Homo sapiens: one gene and its partners. The protein of the gene in region 1 binds, or shares a complex with, the protein of each later gene. Each region holds a gene or a part of one and is shown in the gene's direction. Other genes may lie near its edges.

Region 1 (8,392 bases):
ACCACCCACAGCAGCAGTGGGTATTTACAAAGTAATTCATCTGAATTTTTGTTGTTTTGTTCTGATGGGAAGTGGTTCAGTTTTGAATTTGATTTATCAGTAGATGTTTGGGTTTTTGAAAAGCCTCTGATATTTAGAATCGGAATGTAGGGAACCTTACGTCAGCGCTGGGTCTGTGAGCGAGGATGGCGATCGGGATGCGACTTCGGGTCTTTTCCTTAAAACTGGATGCTTTGTTTCATTTCCTTCCCTCCAAGATCGACCTGATGCCCCATGACCTCATCACTCAGCTCTTGCGCGTCCTGGCCATCGAGACCAAGCAGGAGAAGGCGATGGCGCACGCCGACCCCACGGAGCTGGCGCTGAGCGGCCTGGAGGCCTTCTCTTTCGACTACATCGTCAAGTGGCCCCTTTCGCTCATCATCAACAGGTGCGGGTCGGCTGCTCGGGCACCTGCCAGATCTTCACTCAGGTTTGGCAGAAGCGAGAACTGTGCCACGCGGTGGCCACCTCGTCCCACAGAGGACCCAAGGCGGCTCTCCCCGGCCTTCAGTGTCCGAGAGATTCACGGGCTGTCCGGGGGCCACGGTGCGGACTGTGGAGTACAGACGCCGTGTCCACGACGCCGCCGGTCACGGAGGCCCACCTGAGGTGCCGCCACGTCTCTTGCAGGAAAGCCCTCACTCGCTACCAGATGCTCTTCAGGCACATGTTCTACTGCAAGCACGTGGAGCGGCAGCTCTGCAGCGTCTGGATCAGCAACAAAACCGCCAAGCAGCACTCGCTGCACTCCGCCCAGTGGTGCGTTCTTCCTCTGCCCCCGCATGCCCTCCTGAAGCAGCGCTCGCTGCACTCTGCCCAGTGGTGCAGCGCCCCCCTTGTGCCCTCCTGGTAGACAGCTTTCTAGGCTTCTGGAAGTGTCATCTGGAAGCGCACGTTGGTGGCTTTAGATCCATAATGCTTCATTGCTTCATTTTCCTGTCTTGGGGCTGCACGGCGCTGCCGTCCACCCCACAGGGGATGCTGGCTCTGTCCCTCAGCCCTCTCTGGAGCCTTGTGGTGACTGCACGGGCATGGAGACTGCCCAGGTCGGTGTGCAGGACACTAGCTCCTCCCGAGAGCGGACAGCCACATCTTGCTGGGACCAGAGGTGCTTTGCAGCCGGTCTGTGCCTCTAGGGTGTTGAAAAAAGGGGTCGATGGCAGAGCTTCATAAGAATTTGTCCAGTCGGGTGCAGTGGCTCATGCCTGTAATCTCAGCACTTTGGGAAGCTGAGGAGGGAGGATTGTTTGAGCCCACAAGTTCGAGACCCGCCTGGACAATGTAACAAGAGCTCATCTCTTAAAAAAAAAGAAAATTATTTTAATTAGCCGGGAATGCCTGTAGTTCCAGCAACTCAGGAGGCTGAGGTGGGAGGGTTGCTTGAGTCCAGGAGGTCAAGGCTGCAGTGAGCCAAGATCGTGCCACTGCACTGCAGTCTGAGCGACAGCAAGACCCTGTCTCTCGAAGAAAAAAAGAAATTAGAAGAAAAAGAACTCATCTTGATGATGAAGCACAAATATGCATCTGTTGTGTGGCACTTTCCTGGCGTGGGCTCCGAGGGGTCCGTCCACCAAGGAGCCCGCGTCCCAGTCTCCACCGTCCAGCTGGCTGGGGGTGTCCCTGCAGGGCACAGGTTGGTAGACGGTGACAGCTTGTGCTGGGCAGACGCAGGAGCAGCGGCCGTGAGTGTCTGGTGTGCTGGGAGGGGCGCTTGCTCTGCAGAGGAAATAGCCACGTCCAGAGAACGTCCTCCATGGCTGTCCTCCGTCCTCCGTGTCACTTGGTGGGCGCTGTCGGGGCCGCGTCCTCCATGGCTGTCCTCCGTCCTCCGTGTCACTCAGGTTTGCTGGGGCTTTCACTCTGCGGCAGCGAATGCTCAACTTCGTCCAGAATATTCAATACTACATGATGTTTGAAGTGATGGAACCGACCTGGCACATCCTGGAGAAAAACCTGAAATCCGTGAGTTTTAGCTCCACAGATAATAACGTTTGAAAGCCACTTTCCTTTCACAGGGAGACAGGAAGTGCAGGAGAGGCAGGGCGAGGGGAGAGGCAGGGAGTGCAGGAGAGGCAGGGAATGCAGGGAGACGCAGGGAGTGCAGGAGAGGCAGGGAGTGCGGGAGAGGCAGGGCGTGCGGGAGAGGCAGGGAATGCGGGAGAGGCAGGGAGTGCAGGGAGACACGGAGTGCAGGAGAGGCAGGGCAAGGGGAGAGGAAGGGATCCCCCAGGGCGGGGCTGCACCCACACTGCTGGCCACACACGGGACCCCTTGCTGCCTGCCGTCCTAGGGGGACTCTGAGCCGTCTTTGCCCCGAGGTTGTCTCTCCCACATTGCGCATCTGAGGCTGAGGGGCCTGAAGGCAGAATCTGTTGGTACCAAATTCCAGAAGCTGCCGCAGCCTCCCTTCCTGTCTTCTGCCTTAAGAAATGAAACCCCTTCGGGGTGTGCCCATCATTTTTTTAGTGGTGTTTGGAAGTTTTCCCCTAAAAGCCCAAGGCCCATTTAAGAGGTAGAAGTGCGTAAACAGGAATGCACAAAGCCAGAACTGAGCACGTGCGCATGCAGGGCCCGTCTGTCAGCCACGTCTTTCTGAGAAGGGGCTTGGCCTGTTCCCCGCAGGCCTCCAACATTGACGACGTCCTTGGCCACCACACAGGCTTCCTGGACACCTGCCTGAAGGACTGCATGCTCACCAACCCCGAGCTGCTGAAGGTCTTCTCCAAGCTCATGTCTGTGTGCGTCATGTTCACCAACTGCATGCAGGTGCGTGGGTGTGGGTAGCACCATCGGGTGGGCAGGCGCGGGTGGGCAGACCATGTCCCGACCGTGGCCGCACGCAGCCTGCTCACGTTTTCCTGCCCTTGTGTTCGTGGAGGAGCCGCTGGGATCTGAGTGTTTCCAGAACTCCTGGTCTTCCTGGCCGGGTGATTCCCTCCTGGAGCCCCTGCCCTGGCAGCGTGGGCAGGGCTGTGTTCCTCCCGAACCATCCCTCAGCCTCTGTGGTGCTGGTCTCTGTCCGGGGCCTTTGCTTATGGCCCTTGCATGCTCTTTTCCTCAGCACTTGAGCTATTTGATTCCGTTAAGGACCTGCAGGCACTAGTCACAAGCAGCTGCCGACTGGCGATGGTGCAGAACCTGCGTGTCTAGTGGCAGAAGCAGGGGTCTGAGAATGAGGCTCTCCAGGCAGTGCCATGGGGAGGGTCCGGAGGAGGGCGAGTGGGGAGGTGGAGGAGGGCATGGCCACTTCAGGGTCCCAAATAGGGAAACACCAAAATAACTGTTCTCAGGAAAATCAGCTGGTCACCGTGGAAGGTAGACCTGGGAATTCTGTCGGCACAGATAAGTCATTTCCCCTGCAGCCTCAGAGATGCTTGTGTACCCCCAGCCGCAGGCTACAACAGAGGTGCGGAGGGTGACGTGCCTGCAGGACTTGTTTTTTCTGCAAAGCATTGTGGTTGTAACTAACAGAAGCATTTCCTTGCGACTCTCCCCCCCTAGAAATTTACACAGAGCATGAAATTAGATGGCGAGCTGGGCGGGCAGACGCTGGAGCACAGCACCGTCCTGGGGCTGCCCGCAGGGGCCGAGGAGCGGGCCCGGAAGGAGCTCGCCAGGAAGGTGCGTGGCCTCCAGGTTTGGCCAGAGAGAGACGCTTCCTCCCGGCTGGGCGGCAGCCTGGGCATCCTGACGCAGGGAGAACAAACCTCCCCCCTTTTACTTCCATCTCCCCTCAGATTGAAGAAAAGACTTAAAATTAGCTTCCAAGCACAAGCACAAGAGCCTCTCACAATCTTCTCAGCTCTCTGGTCCCCACTTCAGCCAGTCGGGCTCGAGGGAACCCCCACAGATCTTCAGAGCGAGCGCTGTGCAGGGCGCCTGGGCGAGGGCAGGGGCCACACCCGCTGTCCCTGCTGAGCTCGGTCCTGAGTTAGAACCGTCAGGCTCTCAGCAGGCACGGACAGGCTGCATGTCCTCGGAGGCATGGCCCTGCGGCGCCGGCTCCGGGGTGGCATGGTGGGGTGGGCAGTCCCGTGTTCACACGCTGGAGCTGGAGCTGGCAGAGAGGAGTTGGGTTTGGAAGCGTGGGGGCCGGAGGTGAGGGACACTGAGAGGCGCCCCGACCTCCTTGCTGAGAAAGCTGCTGGGAAAGCTCGTTCATCTCACCCCAAAGGAGAGTGACCACCTCATCCCACGAGGCCTGGAGTGTTTCTCTGAGTGCTGGGTTCTCAGGAATGTTTTTTGATGTCTTTTTTACCTTGAATCTCCTGAAAACATCATGGAACCCATGTTTTCTATTTAAGAAAAGGGGAAGGGAAAGGACACCGGCCTGCTGGGAACAGTGTGGAGCCAAGAAGGCCCACGGTGGGGGTGGGCATGGCTCACGCACCCCGGCTTTCTTTCCAGCACCTGGCTGAGCACGCAGACACTGTGCAGCTGGTGTCCGGCTTCGAGGCCACCATCAACAAGTTTGACAAGAACTTCTCAGCCCACCTGCTGGACCTCCTGGCCCGGCTGAGCATCTATAGCACCAGTGACTGTGAGCACGGCATGGCCAGCGTCATCTCCAGGTGGGTGGGCGCCACCCCGGCTCAGCCCTTCCTCAGCTCAGTCCAGCGCCTGCCCCTGCCCAGCACCGCCCTGGCTCAGCCCTTCCTCAGCTCAGTCCAGCACCTGCCCCTGCCCAACACCGCCCTGGCCCAGTGCTGTCCCTGCTCAGCCGTCCCCCAGCTCAGCCCAGCACCTGCCCCTGCCCAGCACTGCCCTGGCCCAGTGCTGCCCCGGCTCAGCCTTCCCCCAGCTCAGCCCAGCACCTGCCCCTGCCCAGCACCGCCCTGGCTCAGCCCTTCCTCAGCTCAGTCCAGCACCTGCCCCTGCCCAACACCGCCCTGGCCCAGTGCTGTCCCGGCTCAGCCTTCCCCCAGCTCAGCCCAGCGCCTGCCCCTGCCCAGCACCGCCCTGGCCCAGTGCTGCCCCGGCTCAGCCTTCCCCCAGCTCAGCCCAGCGCCTGCCCCGGCTCAGCCCTTCCTCAGCTCAGCCCAGCATCTGCCCCAGCCCAGCGCCACCCCAGCTCAGCACCTGTCCCTGCATCCAGGCCCCATCTCCCCTGCACCCTCCCCTGGTCCACCTGGTGTAGCCTCCTTCAGAAGGTGGGGCAGGTCTGTGTCCTGGTGCTAGTGCTGGTCATATGCCACTCCCTGAAGTCAGGCTAGCCCAGCTCTCCCTGGGGTGTGACATTCTGTGCAACTGGGCTGCCCCATTGGCACCCTGCGGCTGTGTGTGTCCTGTGGGGCTGATCAGGCCTGGGTCAGCTTCCCTCATGCTGCACTAACACCTAGCCTGGGGGAAAGGGCCAGGTGGCCAAACTGCCAGCCTGGAAGGGGTGGTGCCCTTGGGGGTGCTGTCCTTGGGAAGGTGCCTATTTGTGCTTTTGGACCACCCTGTGCCCTGTGCCCCCCACAAATGTTCTGATTTTCTGAGCAGGGATTTCTGAGGCCACCCTGCATTGAGAACCACTGCTTGGTTCTCCAAGCCCCTGACACCTCAGGCCCCATTGCTAGGCCCTGTTGGGGTGATGGGAGCCCCAACTTTCTGGGGCCAGGAGAGAAGAAACCTGTGTTTGTGCCTTTGAGCAGGACTGAACAGGACTGAAAACCTTCCTGTGGAAACATTAGTTAGGAGCGTGCCTCACCCTCACCCCTGCAGGGCCTCTTATGGTCTCTGTAGCTGAACACTTCCCCATGGTAGGAGCAGGGCTGCTCAGGACGGACCCGCAGAAGGAGTGTGTGCCCCAGCTCCACTGTCCTTCCTCACCCCTGCTGCCCAGCACGCACCCGCAGAAGGGGTGTGCACCCTAGCTGCACCGTCCTTCCACACCCCTGCTGCCCAGCATGCACCCGCAGAAGGGGTGTGCACCCCAGCTCCACTGTCCTTCCTCACAGGCTTGACTTCAATGGTTTCTACACGGAGCGCCTGGAGCGCCTGTCTGCAGAGAGGAGCCAGAAGGCCACCCCCCAAGTGCCTGTCCTGCGGGGGCCCCCGGCTCCTGCACCCAGGGTCGCAGTCACCGCACAGTGAGCCCTGGCTGTGACAGGAAGGAAGGGTGTGGGGTCAGCAGGGACTGGTGCAAATGGGTCCAGAATTTTCAAATCGAATGCTCTGTGTTCTGTCTTTGCAGTTTAAATATAAAGCAGGAATGATTGACTCAGCTCACTTTGTTTCTCAAGGCGCTGGGTTTCGTTTTATAGAAGCTGCCCAGGCAGGGTGGATGTCTCCCTGGATTTGCTAATCTGTTTGCTTTTTGAAATTACACTATCACCTTTTTGGGTGTTTTTGGCCTCAAAGTGGAAATACATGGTGTTTAAGCCAGGAGCAAGCAAAGATGCATGTGGGGTAAGATCCAGGCCTGGTGTCCACATCTTTCCGGGTGAGCTGGGGCCGGGCTTCCTGAGGTCTGTCGGAACCGGGACAAGCCTCTGGAAACGGTCAGGGAGTTGTGGAAACCCACCGGGCATCGGGTGTCGGGTTTGCTTTGGCCCCAGAGGCAGCCCCGTTCCTTCTCCTGAGGACTCACCCGCCTCCACGACCCTCCTCCTGCTGCTGCTCCAACTGGTCCAGGGCAGGAGGCCACAGACAGGGCCCTCAGGCACCCTGGGAGCCCACACCTCCCCCTCCGTGGGAGTGGGTCGAGGGGCAGGCTCTGCTGCTGGCTGGAAACCCCACCCCGCCCTATCCGGTACCGCCTTGTTACGTAGAACTTACTCAGCAGACTGACACCCAATCCCCCTCGGGCGATCATCTGCCCTGTCTTCCCACCTCCAGGGCTACAGTGGGCAGCACCGCCATCCCCAGTGTGACAGGGCCCTGGGAGCCTCAGGGCTGCCCGGCCAGGTTGGTCTGCTCTGGTTACATTCTGGCCAAGCTGCCCCTTCCTGCTGACCTGCATGTGTATTGTTGTCACCTTCAGCTCTCAGCACCTCGGCCCCCTTGGGCAGTGAGGAAGGGCCCTGGAGGCGAGGTTGGGAGAAAGGATAGCTAGAACAGGATCCTGCGGGGAACAAGGGTTGTGGGCAGCTCTCACCCGGGGCTGCCTCACTGAGAGCACCGCCGAGTGGGGGTGGGGGTGTCCAACTCTCCAGCCACAAACCGCTTCCTCCTTGTCTGCAGGCTGTGCAGGTCTGGCCTGTGAGTAAACACATTTATCAGCAACCCAAGCTGTCAGTCTCAGTGTTGTGCAAATGCCGGACTGGTGAGCAGAGGAGCCTGCTAGCTTTCCTGCCTGGCCCCGAGGCCCAGAAACCCCTGATCTTGTGTCCTGGGGTCTGGGAAGCCCTGGGCCTTGAGAAGTGGGGTTTGCAGGTGGTGATAGGAGGAGGGGAGGGAAGCCTCCAGGGCTGTGGGGTTCAGGCTCCCAGACCCCCCGGCACCTGCTGAAGAGGAGAGCTGTGTTCTGTGGGATTGGGTGGAACTTCCTCAGCGCGGGAGGAGCCTGTTCTGGCCCAAGCTGGTCCTGTCTTTTTAGGAATAAATCCCTGGTAGCTCAGCGTCGGCAGGGGCCTTGCTGTGCCTCTGATGTGGCCAGCGTGCCGCCTTTGCACTTTGCTGTTGAGTAACTTGCACCATGAGGTCAAGGAAGGGAAGTGTGATTGCCAGCTGGCCATTGTTCTATAATAACAGGGTCACCTGCATGAGCTCAGGCACAGGCCAGTATCCCCAGCCCTACCTGGGAGCCTCTCGGCAGCCTGGGGGACCTCGTCCTGTGCCACACAGGCAAGCGGACACACCCCCAGGCAGCAGAAGTCACCTGCGGCCCAGTGCCAGCCCTTGCTTTCTTGCTTTTCATGCCATTCACATTAGGGTAAGAATGGCTTTGAGACAAAATGTGACAGCATCACTCACGCCAGCTTAGATCCTCCGGGTTCCCTGTCCTCCCAGGATAACGTCCGAGGCCCCGGCCTCTTCTTGCCACTGCCCCTTGACCTCTGTCCTCTGCCCCTAGGCCCGTGCAGTTCCCTGACTCGCCCTGCCCTGGTGCCCTCTCTCCAGGCAGGACTCCCTCCAGCCCCTTGCTGGCCCTGCCCTGCCTCTCCCCAGGGAGGCCCTGAGGCCCCCCCCCCCCATGTGATCTGTCAGCAGCGCCCTGTGTGGTCATCTGAGCTGCCTTTCCTGCCACCACCACTGTTCCCACTCCAGGAGGGCGGCCTGGCTGTGAAAGCCCCAGGGAGGGGTCCTGGGTGGACCGTCTGGGGAGCTGTGGTGTCAGCCCAAACCTGCACCCTCGAGGCTGAGCCCACCACGGGGAATGTGGTCACCAAGGGCAAGCACGCTTGGCCGCAGGCCTGGAGACGCC
Region 2 (8,596 bases), on another chromosome or scaffold:
CTCGGCCTCCCAAAGTGCTGGGATTACAGGCTGTTCCACTGTGCCCAGGAAGCCCAGGAGTCCGAGATGAGCCTGGGCAACACAGCGAGACTCCCATCTCTATTTTTTTTTTTAAAGATGGTATGGTGTTATGATACATATTGGTTTTCGTCCACAGCTCCTGGCTCATGACTCTCATAGTCCTTGTTAGTCTTTTGTTATAATATTGAGTGTGTTAGCCCTCAGGGGCAGTATCTGACCTTCTCCTGCACTCCTTTCACTCTAACCTTCCTGGGCCTTTCTGACTGTGGGCCTTAAGACCCTCCCATAAAGCTTCCATGAAAACCCAAGAGGACAGGGTTCAGTGAGCTTCCAGATGCCTGAACACCTGGAGGTTCCTGGAGGGTGGAGCACCCAGAGAGGGCATGGAAGCTCCACACCCCTGCCCTCATACCTTACCCTCCGTGTCTCTTCATCTGTATCCTTTGCGATATGCTGGCTTTTTTTTTTTTTTTTTCAAATGGAATCTTGCTCTTTCACCCAGGCTGGAGTGCAGTGGCGCCATCTCGGCCCACTGCAACCTCCACCTCTAGGGTTCAAGCGATTCTCATTGCCTTAGCCTCCCTTGTAGCTGGGATTACAGACACCCACCAACCACACCTGGCTAATTTTTTTTTTTTTAGTAGAGACGGTTTCACCATGTTGGCCAGGCTGGTCTCGAAGTCCTGACCTCAAGCGATGCACTTGCCTTGGCCTCCCAAAGTGCTTGGATTATAGGCATGAGCCACCACACTAGGCCTGCAATATGGTTTCTAATAAACCAGTAATTGTCAGTGTTTCCCCGAGTTCTGTGAGCTGCTCCCACAAATCAATTGGACCCAAAGAGGGGGTCATGAGAACCCCAACTTAAAGCCTGCTGGTCAGAAGTTCTGGAGGCCCAGACTTGGGACTGGTGCGGGGCAGGGAGGCAGTCTTGGGGACTAAGCCCTCAACCTATGAGGTCTGACACTGTCTCTGGGTAGATGGTGTTAGAACTGAATTAAAGGACACCCAGCTGGTGTCCACTGCTGGGTGGGGAACAAAAGCCCCATGTGTATGGTCACAGAAATCTGTGTGGATGATTGCTGTGGTGTGAGAGTAGAGGAAATGGTTACAGTTTTCTCTAAACAATTGGTGTCAGTGAAGTGGGATTTGCAGGAATGGCCCTGACTCACATAAACATGTGGTTTGGGAAGAAAAAGGATAAAAGGGTGGAGGAAGAGGTCGTCAATTCCTGGGTGACCACGTGGTCACCATGGTGTGAAGCCACAACTCTGTTGAGATCAGTTACTAAAGGTAAAACTTACTAGTGGAATTTAGAGATGGATCCAACTCCCAGGAATTGGTTCATTGAATGCATAAGGAAATGCAAACTAATAAGAAAAATGTGAAATATTCAGCCCCCTGATTATTGTTATCTATAATGGCTAAAATGAAAGTAAAAGAGGGTGCTGGGTTAGGAATTGAGGCTGGACCAAGCACAGATGTGGGTCTGGCTGAGCTCAGGCCACTAGCCTCGGAGTCACCCACAAAGGAGGAAATTATGCAGGGACAACAGAAAGTACCTCTGAGACCTGTGGTTACCAAGAAGGTAGTCAATGTGAAGGAACCAAGTAATTATCGAAACCAGACAGTAGAGTGTGGAGGAATTGTTCCATTTCATAGATCAGTATCATCAGCTTCCTGAGGAACATTTACTAAAATGGATTCTGAGAGTGACTAATTTAGGGGCAGTATGCAGAGTGGAAGAGCATGTTTGGGTTGATGCAGGACTCACAGTTCACCATTCTAGTCACAGTTGGGTATATATGATTCAGACACACAGGAGATTATTCCTGAGGGAACAGCCAGCCTGGTGGAATGTAGAAAAGTCACTGTAAAGGTCGGGCATGGTGGCTCACACCTGTAATCCCAGCACTTTGGGAGGCCGAGGCGCGTGGATCACCTGAGGTCAGGAGTTCAAGACCAGCCGGGCCAACATGGTGAAACCCTGTCTCTACTAAAAATACAAAAGTTAGCCGGGCGTGGTGGCTCATGCCTGTAATCCCAGCTACTCAAGAGGCCAAGGCAAGAGAATCACTTGAACCCGGGAAGTGGAGGTTGCAGTGAGCCAAAATCATGCCAGTGCACTCCAGCCTGGGCAACAGAAAGAGACTCTGTCTCAAAAAAAAAATTAGCTGGCATGGTGGCATGTGCCTGTGGTCCCAGTTACTCAGGAGGCTGAGGTGGAAGGATCGCTTGAGCCCAGGATTCCAAGGCTGCATAAAAAGTCTCAGAGGCTGGGTGCGGTGGCTTACGCCTGTAATCCCAACATTTGGAAGGGATCACAAGGTCAGGAGTTTGAGACCAGCCTGGCCAACATGATGAAACCCCGTCTCTACTAAAAATACAAAAATTAGCAGGGTATGGTGGAGCGTGCCTATAATCCCAGGTACTTGGGAAGCTGAAGCAGGAGAATTGCTTGAACCTGGGAGGCAGAGGTTGCACTGAGCTGAGATCAAGCCATTGCACTCCAGCCTGGGCTACAGAGTGCGACTACGTCTCAAAAAAAAAAAAAAAAAAAAAAGGCTGGGCGTGGTGGCTCACGCCTGTAATCCCACAGCACTTTGGGAGGCCAAGGCAGGTGGATCACATGAGGTCGACCAACATGGAGAAACCCCGTCTCTACTAAAAATACAAAATTAGCTGGGCGTGATGGTGCATGCCTGTAATCCTAGCTACTTGGGAGGCTGAGGCAGGAGAATCGCTTGAACCCGGGAGGTGGAGCTTGCGGTGAGTTGAGATCGAGCCATTGCACTCCAGCCTGGGCAACGAGAGCGAAACTCCATCTAAAAAAAAAAAAAAAAAAAGATTGTAACTTGGCTACTTGGCTGAGCATGGTGGCTCATGCCTGTAACCCAGCACTTTGGGAGGCTGAGGCAGGTGGATTACCTGAGCTCAGGGGTTCGAGACCAGTCCGGGCAACATGACAAAACCCCTGTCTCTACTGAAAATACAAAAAAATTAGCCGGGTGTGGTGGTGCACACCTGTAATCTCAGCTACTAGGGAGGCTGAGCCAGGAGAATCGCTTGAACCTGAGAGAGGCAGAGGTTGTAGTGAGCCGAGATCATGCCACTGCACTCCAACCTGGGCAACAGAGTGAGACTTAGTCTCAAAAAAAAAAAAAAATCTTAAGTGGCATTTACAGTGTTTGTGATTCTAGATCAGGCTACGTTTCATTCCATAAAATAAATAGAATGAGTGTTCAGATGAGTCAAGCACAGGTTAGTTTTTATGGACAAAAAAGGGTAGAGAAAAATAGAAACAGAAGGAAAAAAAGCAGATGGGTCCTTTCAAAGTTACTTTTCTTGTAAAAGGACTTCCGTATCATGCCGGCTCACACTGGCTTGTTTGGGGTTTTGGCTCTTCCTTCCCTCTCCTGATTCCTCTGAAGGTTTGATAAACAACTTAGTGTTGCTTAGTGACATAGAACTTTAGCGTGAGTGACTCCATTTTGGTTTGGTCTGTTGAGCCAAGCACAGGAGCTCAGTGCAAATCAATGGCCTCCTATAAAATTTATTTAACTGAACCCTTGTGCATTGCTGGTGGGAATTTAAAATGGTGCAGCTACCATGGAAAATCGTATGGCGATTCCTCAGAACATTAAACACAATTACCATATGATCCAGCAATTCTACCTCTGGGTGTATATCCAAAATAATTGAAAGCAGGGACTCGAACAGATATTTGTACACTCACATTCAAAGCAGCAACATTCACAATAGCCAAAAGGTGGAAGCAACCCAAATGTCCATGGAGGGATGAATGGTTATGCAAAATGTGGTACATCTATACAATGGAATATTATTCAGTTGTAAAAAGGAAGGAAATTCTGACACATGCTACGAAATGGAAGGATCTTGAAGATATTATGTTAAGTGAAAGAAGCCAGACCCAAAAAGACAAATACTGTATAATTCCACTCATATCAGGTGCCTAGAGTAGTCAAGGGGAAGTTACTGTTTAATCGCGATAGAGTTTCAGTTTGGGAAGATAAGAAAGTTCTAGAAAAGAATGGTGGTGGTGGTTACAGAACAATGTGAGTGTACTTGGTGCCACAGAACTGTATGCAGTACTTACAAATGGTTACAATGGTAAATTTAGGCCAGGAGTGGTGGCTCATGCCTGTAATCCCAGCATTTTGGGAGGCCAAGGCAGGAGGATTGATTGAGGCCAGTAGTTTAAGACCATCTTGGGCAACACGGTGAGATCCCCATCTCTATAAAAATACATTTTAAAAATTTAAAAATTAGCTGGGCGTGGTAGCACACGCCTGTAGTCCCAGCTACTCGGGAGACTGAAGTGGGAGGATCACTTAAGCCAGAAGTTCAAGGCTACAGTGAGCTATGATCGCGCCACTGCACTCCAGCCTGGGCGACAGAGCGAGACCCTTCTAAAAAATAAAAAGGTAACATACATGTGTATGTATTGTAACACCATTAAAAAACAGAAATTTAAACGAAGAAAAGTTGGCTTCTAGCCCTTTGATCTAGCAAAGCTGACAGTGTCCTCACCTACCAATATAGGTAGATGACTCCTTACACGTGGACAAGCACATCCACCTGGCCGCTTCTCCCCTTTCCTCCCCTCCCCCGTTCCTCTCCTCCCCAACACATCCAGGTTCCGACCCTGCCACCCCCAACGAGTCTCACTGCGCAGGCGCGGAGCGGTGGGCAGGAGCGGGCGTGGCCTGACTCTGCGCCTGTGCGGAATTCCAGCTGCGACTGCTGAGGGAGAAAATGATGCCCAGGTTGGGCTCCCCGGCCCACCGGCCGAGGAGAGGCCTGCGCTGCACACGCGCAGACCGAGCATCCGCGTCAAGAGGCGAAGAGAGCGCGCGCTCCCCACGTCCTGCGCTCCTGGCTGCCGGGCATTCGTCTCAGCCGTGACTCTCGCCAGGCCGGGGCTGGCGCGCCCACGTCTGAAGAGCGATGCCCCGGGAGATCATCACCCTGCAGCTGGGCCAGTGCGGCAACCAGAGTGAGCAAGCGAGCGCCGGCCCCGCCGGTCTCTGGTTCTGCCCCTTCGGGTCCCACCCAAGTGCCTGGCTTCCACCAGTCCCCCTTTCCCTTCCATGAACCCCCTGCCCTGCTGCTCTGGATAACCCAGACCGAGAGCTGCGCCTCCAGCCCGGGGCTGGGGCAGCTACCAAACCCAGGCATCTTGGGTCCACCCTCTGATCGTGTCAGCCTCTGAGACTAAAACTGGGCTCCTCAGGCCTTAAGGCTCCAGCAGACCCGGGCATCTCCCCCCTCCCCCAGTTGGGTTCGAGTTCTGGAAACAGCTGTGCGCCGAGCATGGTATCAGCCCCGAGGGCATCGTGGAGGAATTCGCCACCGAGGGCACTGACCGCAAGGACGTCTTTTTCTACCAGGTGCCCCCAGCGACTTGGCCGGGGGCGGCAGTGGCCCAAGGGGGCGGAAGGGAAGGGAGTGGCCTGGTACTGGGAACCCCGCTGGGCAGTAGGGCCAGGCGGCTGGCTTGAGGAGGGAGGGCCGGAGGGAGCCAGAGTTGGGAGGACTTCGGACTTGGGCCGCCCTAGCTGATTGGGCCCCCTCCTGGACTCCCCTTGACAGGCAGACGATGAGCACTACATCCCCCGGGCCGTGCTGCTGGACTTGGAACCCCGGGTGATCCACTCCATCCTCAACTCCCCCTATGCCAAGCTCTACAACCCAGAGAACATCTACCTGTCGGAACATGGAGGAGGAGCTGGCAACAACTGGGCCAGCGGATTCTCCCAGGTGTCCTAGCGACCATTCCAGAGACCTTTGATATTCCCATCCAGAGGCAAGGCAGGCTCAAGCTACTAGGAATTTGACCTGACTGACAGAAAATAAGAGACAAAAGGATGTCCCGAACAAGAGGGACAGCCAGGGAGAGGTTTATGCAAATTTTGTGCAAATCATTTGCAATAGTAGCACTTCTGGGTTGAGGGCTACAGCCTAGGCTCTGCTTCAGGGTGGCAACAATATTCCAGGGTAGACAGAATTCTTGGTGCTGTGCTGAGAAAAGATGCTCTCTGGAACCTTTGGCCTGACCCTCCCTTTCCATATCTCTATACAGGGTGAGAAAATTCATGAAGACATCTTTGACATCATAGACCGAGAAGCAGATGGAAGTGACAGTTTGGAGGTGAAGTTATGGAGTGGGGGAAGGAATGGGCAGGGAGGCCGAAGAGTGCTGGGGACAGGTCAGGAGGTGGCCTGGATAGGTAATATGAGGGGAGCAATTCAATTCAAAACCCGTTTATGGAGCATCAGATGTGGGATATTGAGGTGAATAAGATATAATCTTTGTTCTCAAGGAAGTCATAAATCTGAATGGCACCGGCCCCTTAGGCATGAGTCATTCAGCTGCTTCTCCAGCTCCAAACCTTCCCAAGGAGCCTCAGCCTGGATGCATAAGAGGAAGCTTTGAGACATTGGCGTTTTGGGAATGGAGAATGAACCAAGCCGAAGTCTCTCCCCCAGATCCTTGGAGACTGCCTCTCCATCTCTCCCCATGCTGGGTGCGATATGTTCCTGGCTTACAGCTCTTATAACCCATGTAATTTCCTAAGGGACTAGAGCAATAATAGTATGTTTTGTTAAAATATTTGACCTTTTGTCCTTGGTTTCTGAAACAGCTCCAGAACAGCTCCAGAGTGATAAAGGTGAAAGACAGTCTTTTGTTATTTATAACAAGCCCGTTTCTTTTAGTTTAATCTTTCATTTTATTTTAATTAGTTAATTTTACTAACCACTGTACTAAGGAGGAACAAGTGCCTTTCAACCAAACCTGAGCTTATGTTAAAGAGGCGATTTTTGGAAAGTCCCAGATAGCCACTGGATGGGGGGCTGGTTGCCAGGGGAACAAACCTGGTGCTCTGAGGGTTGGAATTTACAGGCCCACCCCTCACCTCTGGGGAAGGGAGAGGGGATGAAGATTGAGTAGAGCACCAATTGCCAATGATTTAATCGGTCATGCCTGTGTAATGAAGCCTCCATAAAAATCCAAAAGGACTGAGTTTGGGGGCTTCCAGGAAGGTGAACAAGAACACATCCACAGGCCAGGAGGGTGCAAACCCAACGCCACAGGGCAGCAACTCCTATGCGCCGGACCCTTCTAGAGCTTCCCCTCGGTATCTCTTCATCTGGCTGTTTATTTGTATCCTTTAAAATATCCTTTATAACAAATGGATGAACGTAAGTAAGTGTCTCCTTGAGTTCTGTGAGCTACTCTAACAAATTAATTGAACCCAAGGAGCAGTCCTGAGAACCTCGATTTATAGCTGGTTGGTCAGAGGCACAGATAAAACAACCTGAAGCTTGTGTTGGCATTGGAAGTGGGAGAGTCTTGTGGGACTGAGCCTTCACTCTGTGGGATCTGATGCTATCTTCAGGTACAGATACTCCTCAACTTACAATGGGTTTATCAGGATGTAAACACATCACAAATTGAAAATATTGACTAGGCACAGTGGCTCATGCCTGTAATCCCAGCACTTTGGGAGGCCGAAGCAGGTGGATCATCCGAGCCCAGGAGTTCAAAACCAGCCTGGGCAACATGGTGAAACCCCATCTCTGCAAAATATACAAACATTATCCAGGCATGGTGGTACATGCCTATAGTCCAAGCTACTTGGAGGCTGAGATAGGAAGATGCCTTGAGCCCAGGAATTCAAGGCTGCAGTGAGCTATGATCACACCACTGCACTGCAGTCTGGGGGACTGAGTGAGATCCTGTCTCTAAAACCAAAACAAATTTGAGGACAGGTGCGGTAGCTCATGCTTGTAATCCCAACACTTTGGCAGGCCGAGGCGGGCAGATCACTTGAGGTCAGGAGTTCAAGACCAGCCTGGCCAACATGGTGAAACCCCGTATCTACGAAAAATAAAAAAATTAGCCAGGCGTGGTGGTACATGCCCGTAGTCCCAGCTACTTGAGAGGCTGAGGCAGGAGAATGGCTCGAACCTAGGAGGTAGAGGTTGCAGTGAGCCAAGATCGGGCCATTGCACTACAGCTTGGGTGACAGAGCAAGACTCCGTCTCAAAAAAAAAAAAAATTGAAAATACCGTAAGTAGAAATGCATCAGGTTATAACCCAATAAGCCCATCATGAAGTTGAAAAATTGTAAATTGAACCATTGTAATTCAGATGCTTCTTGATTTAAGATGGGATTATGTCCTGATAAACCCATCATAAAGCCAAAACATCTTAAATTAAACCATCCTAAGTCAGGGACAGTCTGTAGGTAGTCCAGAATTGAAGTGAATTAGTGGATACCCAGCTGGCATCTACTGTAGAATTGACTGCTTACCTGATGTGTGTGGTAAGACCCCACCCATCTGGTATCAGAATTGTGTTGTGAGAGTGTGGCAGGAGAAACTGAGTCTGTTTATTCCTGTATACACACAGGGCTTCGTGCTGTGTCACTCCATCGCTGGGGGTACGGGTTCTGGCCTGGGCTCCTACCTCCTGGAGCGACTGAATGACAGGCAAGCCTGTGTTTGGGGAGAGGGCATTAACCCTGGTTCCCTGAGTAATGTCATTGCT
Region 3 (7,827 bases), on another chromosome or scaffold:
TTTTTTTTAGTACTATGAAATCAAGGCATAATAGGTACTTGTTACTTTTAATGAGAATTTCATATGAATCACATTTTTATAAGGTATCTTTTAAAAAATTATACAGTTGACTTCAAGGGACCTTCAGAAGCAAAGCACCTACATATAATGGTGCTTGACAGTTTTACAAAGTTAGCATGACCATGATTTACCACCTTTTCCAACTTATAACATCTGTGAATTTGCTTGAAACACATACTGCCAGCCAGTCATAGTCAAATCCTGTCTCCATATCCCTGCCCCTCCTGGGAGCACATTTATTTATTATGTCTTTGCGTAATTATTCTTATCATTGGAAACAGTGTGCTTGATGTTAATGTTCAAATCTGTCAGAGGTAACACTTCTTTTCATAGCTACTTTGTAATCCTTTTTCTAACTATGAGGTAAAGAATACATAAAGAGGAATTTATATTAGATAAGTATTTCATCATAAATGTTCAGGTATGACTACAGTACACAGCATATTCGAAGATGATTGCCATAATATGCAAGACCTCTATGAGTGTCCTACAAGCCACTATCAGAAGATAAAGGATTATTGTTTTGGTGATTCAGTACCACAAGTGGTGTTGCTATTGGTTTCATGATTTTCCAAAATGGTAAAGAGCTTTTGATGAAGTTCCAAATACCATGTGATCTTCCTTTGGTTATATAATTACATTCTTGGGAAGATCAATGTGTATTACATGTATATTAAGATATACATTAGATGTGTATTAAAACTTCAGAGTTTCAGGCTTTGTTTCAAGTTGTACTTGATGGATTTACTATTTTTCAATAAGTTAAAATTTAAAAATTGTTTTGGCTTAAATTTCTAATATGGTAACTGTGGATAGATATAACCTACATAAACAAAAGCTTTTTGGAGTTCTCAATCGTAATAGTGTAAAGAAGCCCTGAGACCAAAGAGTTTGAGAACCACGCATCTAGAGTAATGTTTTTGTTGTTTTAGAGCATTGCTTTTCAACTAGAGCCATGCATTGGAATCGCCTGTGATTTCACAAGAACCTGATAACGTTGATTGCCTGTGGGAAGGGGAGCTGGTGGCCAGTGGTTGAGAACAGGACTTTTTATGGTATCTAACTTCATGCCTTTTCATTTTAAACTCTCTAAATGTGGGACTTACTCAGAATTAATATTGTGGGCTTCATCTCTAGGGCTTCTGATCCTGTAGGTGTCTGTTGGAGCTTGGCATCCGAAACATTAAAATGCGTGATAAGTTACTCTGACTTGCATCTGGAGTCAAGGGTGGCTAGTGTATGTGCTCTGTTCCTCTACTAAGCACTGTGGCTTACTCCCAACGCCCTCCTGACCCCTCCCCCATCCTTCAGAAAAGCAGAAGTGTGGAACATATAGTCCACGCTGTCGACAAGAAACAGGAAGGCAGAAACTTGGGTCTCCCCAAACAGTTCAACTTTTCCGCAGTTGTTTTTTGAATCTTGAGAAACACACAACTGTGGAGTTTCTGTATTCACTTGAGTCGAATTTATTTTTGTGCATCTTGAAGTTCAGTTGTCATCTTTAACCTGAGTGTATATAGAATCTTTTGGGGATACAAAGGGCAACTTTTTTGTTTAAAAGCTCTTGGGCCCACATCCAGGTGTCTCTGGAGCCTTCACATTTGGGACTGAACGCAATTCCAGCTGAGGGTCTTGCCTTGGCTTTGTATCTCCTCTAGTTCCTCTTCTCCTCTTCAGTCAGAGGGTCCTTTCTAGAAAACCAATCTCATCGAATCTGTTGAAGGCTTAATTTGTTCTCTATTTGTAGTCTTCAAGATGAAGACCAAATTATCTTGCTCAAGGTTAAAAATTGGGTGCATTTTTTGAGTTGTGATTCTAATGGCTGTAGCAGATATAGTATGTATTTAATATTTTCAGGTTAATAACAATACGAATAGCTAACATTTATATAAAACTTAAAATATGCTGGATGTTGTGCTTATACTGTGGTAGAATTATGGTGAACCTCATTTTCTAGATGAGAAAACTGAGACTTTGAGAGATTAAGTAGTTTGCTCACTATCATCGAGCTAGTAAATTGCGGGGCCAAGGTTGGAACCCAAGTTCTGATTCTACAGCTTGATATTTTGAATTAATTCACCCCGGCTTTTAAGTGTTGAATTTGATGGCGAATTTCTCTGTGTGCTCGATAGAGACAATAAGTCATGGCCCAGCTTGTGGGATGGCTTCTCACCTCTATCCGCTCTTGTGTTTAGAGTGTACAACTCAGCAGCACTGCTCTCTGGTCAGGCAGTGTGCCCTTGCATTCATTGAAATAATTTCAGAGGATCATCAGAGGAGTGTTCACTCCCCTTCCAGGAACCTGAGAACTGCCCACCCCTCACACACCCAGAGCAGATTAGAGGTGGGAGAACTAGACCTCTCCTTAGGTGATTTGTGGCCAAAAAAATGGAGTACTCTATTTTTCACTCTTGCATTAAGCAGAATCATCAGAGATCTACATCTGGACCTTGTCACCTGGGGCTCTCGATGGAGTGACTGACTGAGTGGCATTTAGAGCCCTGTGGCACGGCCTCCCTGCAGCAGCAGTGTCCAGTGCCGCCCTTCCCTGTGGGTTCCCCTCTCTGGTCCCTGGGCTCCTCACGTGGCAGCCTTGGCTGCCAGGCTAACGGTGTTTCCTGCAAGGCCTTCCCTCAGCATCTACTTCACGAGGTCCTCCTGGTCATGAGCTGTCATAGTGCCCTCATTTTCTTTGACGCTCTTATCACAGTCTGCCTTGGGTACTTATGTGCCACATTTGTTATGTTCTACGTCTGTCTCATTAACCACTGTACATCATATTGTTAGGGCCTGACGTGTTTGGCCTGTAGTAAGTATTTAGGAGTTATTCATTGAATTACTGATTGAGTTTAGTTATACTTTAAACACTGAACAGTATTTTGGGAGTATTTAAACCAGAAGCGTGTAGTGGACATTGCTTGATTTTTTCCCAGCTTATTCTTTGATTGCAGGTTCACTAAACAAGGAATGATTGCTATGTCTAATTTCTTTAGTAGTCTGGATTCTGTGCTTTTCCCTCTGAAGCACAGATTAAGTAGATTTGGTTTAAGAGGTAACAGTTGGATTTTTAAAAATATTTTATAATCAGCAAGAAGGATAAACTGGAAATTTGGTTGGTAAGAGGACAGGGAGACTCAGGTGTGGCTGAAGAGGTAAGTGGGGGTGAAATGATGACATCCATCTGAGGTGCAGAGAAAGTGAGGAGGTGAAGAGGAGAGTGTTTCTGGCATTGAAGAGTTCCTAACTTTTTGGTATGAGAAAGTTGAAAAGTATATAAAACATTTGGATTGGGGATATTTATGTGATGTACTTGAGTGTGAAAATGGTAACCTAAAAATAATTTTTACTGGCTGGGTACGGTGGCTCACACCTGTAATCCCAGCACTTTGGGAGGCCAAGGCGGGAGGATTGCTTGATCCCAGGAGTTCGAGACCAGCCTGGGCAACATGGTAAGACCCTGTCTGTACAGAAAATATAAAAATTAGCTGGATGTGGTGACACATACCTGTAGTCCCAGCTACTTGGGAGGCTGAGGTGGGGGAATCACTTGAGCCCAGGAGGCAGAGGTTGCAGGGAGCCGAGATCTTACCACTGCACTCCAGCCTGGGCGACAGAGTGAGACCTTGTCTGGGAAAAAAAAAATTCTTAAATAGTGACACAACTTTTAAAGGAAACTTTTCAATGATACTTTTAATATTTGTAAAATTAATATATACGCAGTGTAAAAATTCAGAAAGTGGAAAAATATAAGGAGAAAAAAACTACCCCGACCCTGTGACCCCACAAAACATTTTAGATTTCATTTTGTTCCTTTCCCCACTATGCAGGCATTCACTGGATCCTTGCTGACACAGTGCGCTTGTGTCTGCTTTAGCTAGAATAGGGACAGAAAGATGGGGGGGTGTGAGTCCTTAGAGGATGTGGAGAAGAGAGAGCTGGGTGCCGAGCTGGAGGTGAGCTTGGTGTGTTCCAGGAATAGCAGGAGTGCAATGTGGGGAGCAAGGGGCCGGCTCCCTGGGCTGGGGCCAGGAGGTTGGGTTCTGTTGTGAGTGTGATGGGTGTGTGAGCAGAGTGATGATAATATTTATATTTTAAGAGGATCACTTTGACTGCTGGGTGGATAATTCACTCTAAGGGGGCAAAGGTGGAAGCAAGTGAGCAGCTCCTCAGGAGACTTCCTGTAATGGGATGGTAGCTGTGGAGTGATCATATTTGGGATATGCTTTTAGAAATAGAATCAACAGGATTTGCTGATCTAAATAATTACTTAATAGTCTGAAAATGTCTTTATTTCTCTTACGCTTCTATTCCTGAACTCTTGGATCATCAGTCAGATATAGATATTCTGGTCTGAAGTGTTTTTCCTCTGCCCACTTTGAAGGTATTCTTTCATTATTGATGAGAAGTCTGATGTTAATCCATTTCTTACTCCTTTGAAGATGTGTCTGGTAGCTTTTAGAATTTTAAAAAATCCTGCATGTTCTGAAATTTTGCAATAATGTGTCTAGGTGTGGAACTTAAAAATTTACCTGGATTAACACTTGATGATCCTTCAATCTGAGGACTTTTCCTTTTTTTAAAATTTATTATTTTTTTCAAAGCTAGTGACAGACTTAGAATTTTTTTTTTGAGAAGGATCTTGCTGTATTGTCCAGGCTGGTCGCAAACTCCTGGGCTCAAGTGATCCACCTCAGCCCCTGAAAGTGTTGCAATTACAGGTGTGAGCCACCACGCAGGGCTGACTTTTTTTTAATGATAGAAAAATTTTACTATTTTTTCTTCATAATTTCTAACTGTTCTTTTGTTGTGTTTGATTTTCTAGCTTGCATTTAAATTGTCCTTTAGTATCTCCATTCTGCTATTTAGCCCATTTAAAAAAATTCTCAGTGTTTAGGTTCACAGTGATTTCCTCTGTGCTACCATTTTGCCTTTGTGCTGGCCGCCACCATCCTGTGTCTGTGTATGTCTCCGCTTCTAGAATTTCACGTAAATGCAGTCATACAGTGTTCAGTCAAAAGTTTTGAGACTTGTTTCTTTCACTTAGTATAACGCGTTTGAGATGCATTTACAGTGCCATATCAATAGTTCACCTTTTCATTGCAGAGTAGTGTTCCATTGTATGATGAACCAGTTTATCCATTTTACCACTGAGGGACATTTGGAGTGCTTCCGTTTTTGGCAGTTATGGATAATGCTGCTATGAACATTCATGGACAGGTTTTTTATGTGAACTTAAGTTAGTTTTCTAGAATAAACACCTGCAAGTGGGGTTGTTGGGCCTCAGGGCAGGTGCATGCTCATTGTTTTCAGAAGTTGCCAGACTCTTTTCCAGTATGGCTGTGGCTGCTTTGCCGCTGCACCAGCAGTGTGGGAGAGCTCCAGGGATGCCATGGCTCCACCCGCACACAGCAGTGTGGGAGAGCTCCAGGGATGCCATGGCTCCACCCCCACTCAGCAGTGTGGGAGAGCTCCAGGGATGCCATGGCTCCACCCGCACACAGCAGTGTGGGAGAGCTCCAGGGATGCCGTGGCCCCCCGGCACTCAGCAGTGTGGGAGAGCTCCAGGGATGCCGTGGCCCCCTGACACTCAGCAGTGTGCGAGAGCTCCGGGGATGCCGTGGCCCCGCGGGCACTCAGCAGTGTGGGAGAGCTGCAGGGATGCCGTGGCCCCGCTGGCACTCAGCAGTGTGCGAGAGCCCCAGGGATGCCGTGGCCCCGCGGGCATTCAGCAGTGTGGGAGAGCTCCAGGGATGCCGTGGCCCCACTGTCACTCAGCAGTGTGGGAGAGCTCCAGGGATGCCGTGGCCCCACCTGCACTCAGCAGTGTTAGTGGTTTTTAATCTTAGCTATTCTAGCAAGTGTGTTGTGATATCTCAGTGTGGTTTTAATTTTAATTTTCCTAGTGATGTTGAACATCTTTGTGTGTGTGTGTGTGTTTGCCATTCATATGTCTTCTTGGTGAATTATCTGTTCAAAACTTTTGCTTATGTCTTTGTGTTTTGCACATATTTTTTCTCAGTATTTTCATTCTCTTAACAGTGTCTTTTGCAGAGCAAAAGTTTTTAATCTTGATGAAGGCCAATGTATGAATTTCTAAAAAAATGGGTCATCATTTTGGTGTCATGTAGGAACTCTGCCAAACTCAAAGTTGCAAAGATTTCTTTGTTTTGTTTTATTTCTAAGAGGGGCTTATGTTTTACTCTTCTATTTAATTTTTGCTGGGGTGATCAGACCCAACACCAGGTCGTGGGGGTGACGAAGTCTGGTGGAGTCGAAGGAATGAGAAAAGACAGTTTGAGAGCGAAAGTGGGTCCAGGGGGCCATCGCTAAGTATGGAGGCTGTGAAGGCCCTGAGCTCTGGAAGCCCAGACTATTTATTGGTGATCAAACAAAGAAACAGGTGGTGAGAATGTGGGGGTCGAAAGGTCGCGTTGCATTAAGCACATGATTTACAGGTGTGATGATTTAGCATCTGCTCTGCTACTTGAGATAATGGAGAGCAGGTTCTTTTTTTTTTTTTTTTTTTTTTTTTTTTGAGACGGAGTCTCACTCTTTCGCCCAAGCTGGACTGCAGTGGCGCTATCCCGGCTCACTGCAAGCTCCGCCTCTTGGGTTCATGCCATTCTCCTGCCTCAGCCTCCCGAGTAGCTGGGATTACAGGCGCCCACCACCACGCCCGGCTAATTTTTTGTATTTTTAGTAGAGACGGGGTTTCACCGTGTTAGCCAGGATGGTCTCGATCTCCTGACCTCGTGATCCGCCCGCCTCGGCCTCCCAAAGTGCTGGGATTACAGGCGTGAGCCACCGCGCCCGGCCGAGAGCAGGTTCTTTTAACTCAAGATACAATCGATCCTGGGAGAGCAAGGAGCAAGGAGCCAGCAAGTCTAGACACATTCCAGAGCCACGAGTCCTGGATTCCATCCAAGCCACGAGGGGTTTTATGCCCTGGGCTGAGATTATGGTGCGTCAGGGTAGCCTTCCGCCCTTTAGCACAGATTGGCGTTCCAAAGGCCTCAAGGGATTTTAGACCCTGGACCCCGGACATGTTCCAAGACTCTTTTACGTTAGTCAGACATGCAAGCCCTGCCTCAGCTTCTCCCAACACTCAGCTTTTCCCAACAAATTTTCATATGTGGCATGTGATATAGGTTGAAATTCATTTTTGAGTTTACCAAAGAAAGCTTTTTCCCCCCTCACATTTTAGTTGCTTTCTTATCTTGAAGACTAAAAGTTTGAAAACGGAGCTTTAAAAAATATTGATGCCATGGCTCCCCACTCCAGACTGATAAAATCAGAATTTGTGAAAAGTGAGTCTTGGCATTAATATATTTTAAAAAAATGTTTTATTTTAGAATGATGATAGACTTACAGAAAAATTGCAAATATAGAGTTCCTGTAAGCCCAGTACCATTTTGTCTTACATAACCGTGGTACACTTGTTAGAATTAATTAATTAATAATGATACACTAGTATTAATCAAGCTCCATAGTTATTTAGATTTCCTCACTTAGCACTCGGTGGCCTTTTGCTGTCTCTAGGCTCCCTCTAGGAATGTTACATTCATTTGTCTTGTCTCTTTGGGCTTCTCTTGACATTGACAATTTCTCGGACTTTTTTTTTCATGATCTTGAGAATTTTGAGGATTAAAGGTTATTAGTAGACTGTCTCAACTGAGTCTGATATTTTTATCATGACTAGACTGGGGCTACATATTTTTGGGAGGAAGACCCCCAGGGTGAAGTGACATTTTCATCACATCATATGGA

Evidence for each region. Proteins that work in one complex are often made in the same cells at the same time.
Region 2: TUBGCP2 (region 1) and TUBG2 share a complex: the UniProt entries of both Homo sapiens proteins name them as parts of the gamma-tubulin ring complex.
Region 3: the proteins of TUBGCP2 (region 1) and TUBGCP3 are in contact, whole or in part, in a cryo-EM structure (PDB 8Q62), measured with the Homo sapiens proteins. Residues at the interface, in NP_006650.1 of Homo sapiens: Gln172, His173, Pro175, Ile176, Phe177, Pro178, Trp180, Arg184, Ala186, Leu187, Ile188, Gly189, Phe191, Leu222, Tyr223, Val226, Val228, Asp229, Gly230, Arg231, Glu278, Ser281, Phe283, Gln287, His290, Ala291, Ala294, Arg297, Val300, Lys301; in NP_006313.1 of Homo sapiens: Glu272, Asn273, Cys274, Ser286, Leu287, Asp289, Thr290, Val292, Arg293, Glu296, Trp299, Ser361, Thr363, Leu364, Arg365, Leu368, Val369, Tyr372, Lys375, Ile376, Lys379, Ala382, Ala383, Asp386, His387, Ala402, Tyr403, Lys405, Thr406, Gly407.

Annotation. Positions count from the first base shown.
Region 1 is NC_000010.11:133,277,494-133,285,885, reverse strand, and holds the end of TUBGCP2 (gamma-tubulin complex component 2), read left to right. Parts: intron 1-257; coding exon 258-430; intron 431-672; coding exon 673-801; intron 802-1,883; coding exon 1,884-2,004; intron 2,005-2,664; coding exon 2,665-2,808; intron 2,809-3,543; coding exon 3,544-3,663; intron 3,664-4,449; coding exon 4,450-4,613; intron 4,614-5,984; coding exon 5,985-6,120; 3' UTR 6,121-7,251; downstream 7,252-8,392. UniProt on the Homo sapiens protein: Component of the gamma-tubulin ring complex (gTuRC) which mediates microtubule nucleation.
Region 2 is NC_000017.11:42,654,515-42,663,110, forward strand, and holds the start of TUBG2 (tubulin gamma-2 chain), read left to right. Parts: upstream 1-4,769; 5' UTR 4,770-4,989; coding exon 4,990-5,038; intron 5,039-5,319; coding exon 5,320-5,432; intron 5,433-5,634; coding exon 5,635-5,802; intron 5,803-6,124; coding exon 6,125-6,193; intron 6,194-6,686; coding exon of another isoform or gene 6,687-6,713; intron 6,714-8,458; coding exon 8,459-8,538; intron 8,539-8,596. UniProt on the Homo sapiens protein: Tubulin is the major constituent of microtubules, protein filaments consisting of alpha- and beta-tubulin heterodimers. Gamma-tubulin is a key component of the gamma-tubulin ring complex (gTuRC) which mediates microtubule nucleation.
Region 3 is NC_000013.11:112,577,327-112,585,153, reverse strand, and holds part of TUBGCP3 (gamma-tubulin complex component 3), read left to right. Parts: intron 1-992; exon of another isoform or gene 993-1,115; intron 1,116-7,827. UniProt on the Homo sapiens protein: Component of the gamma-tubulin ring complex (gTuRC) which mediates microtubule nucleation.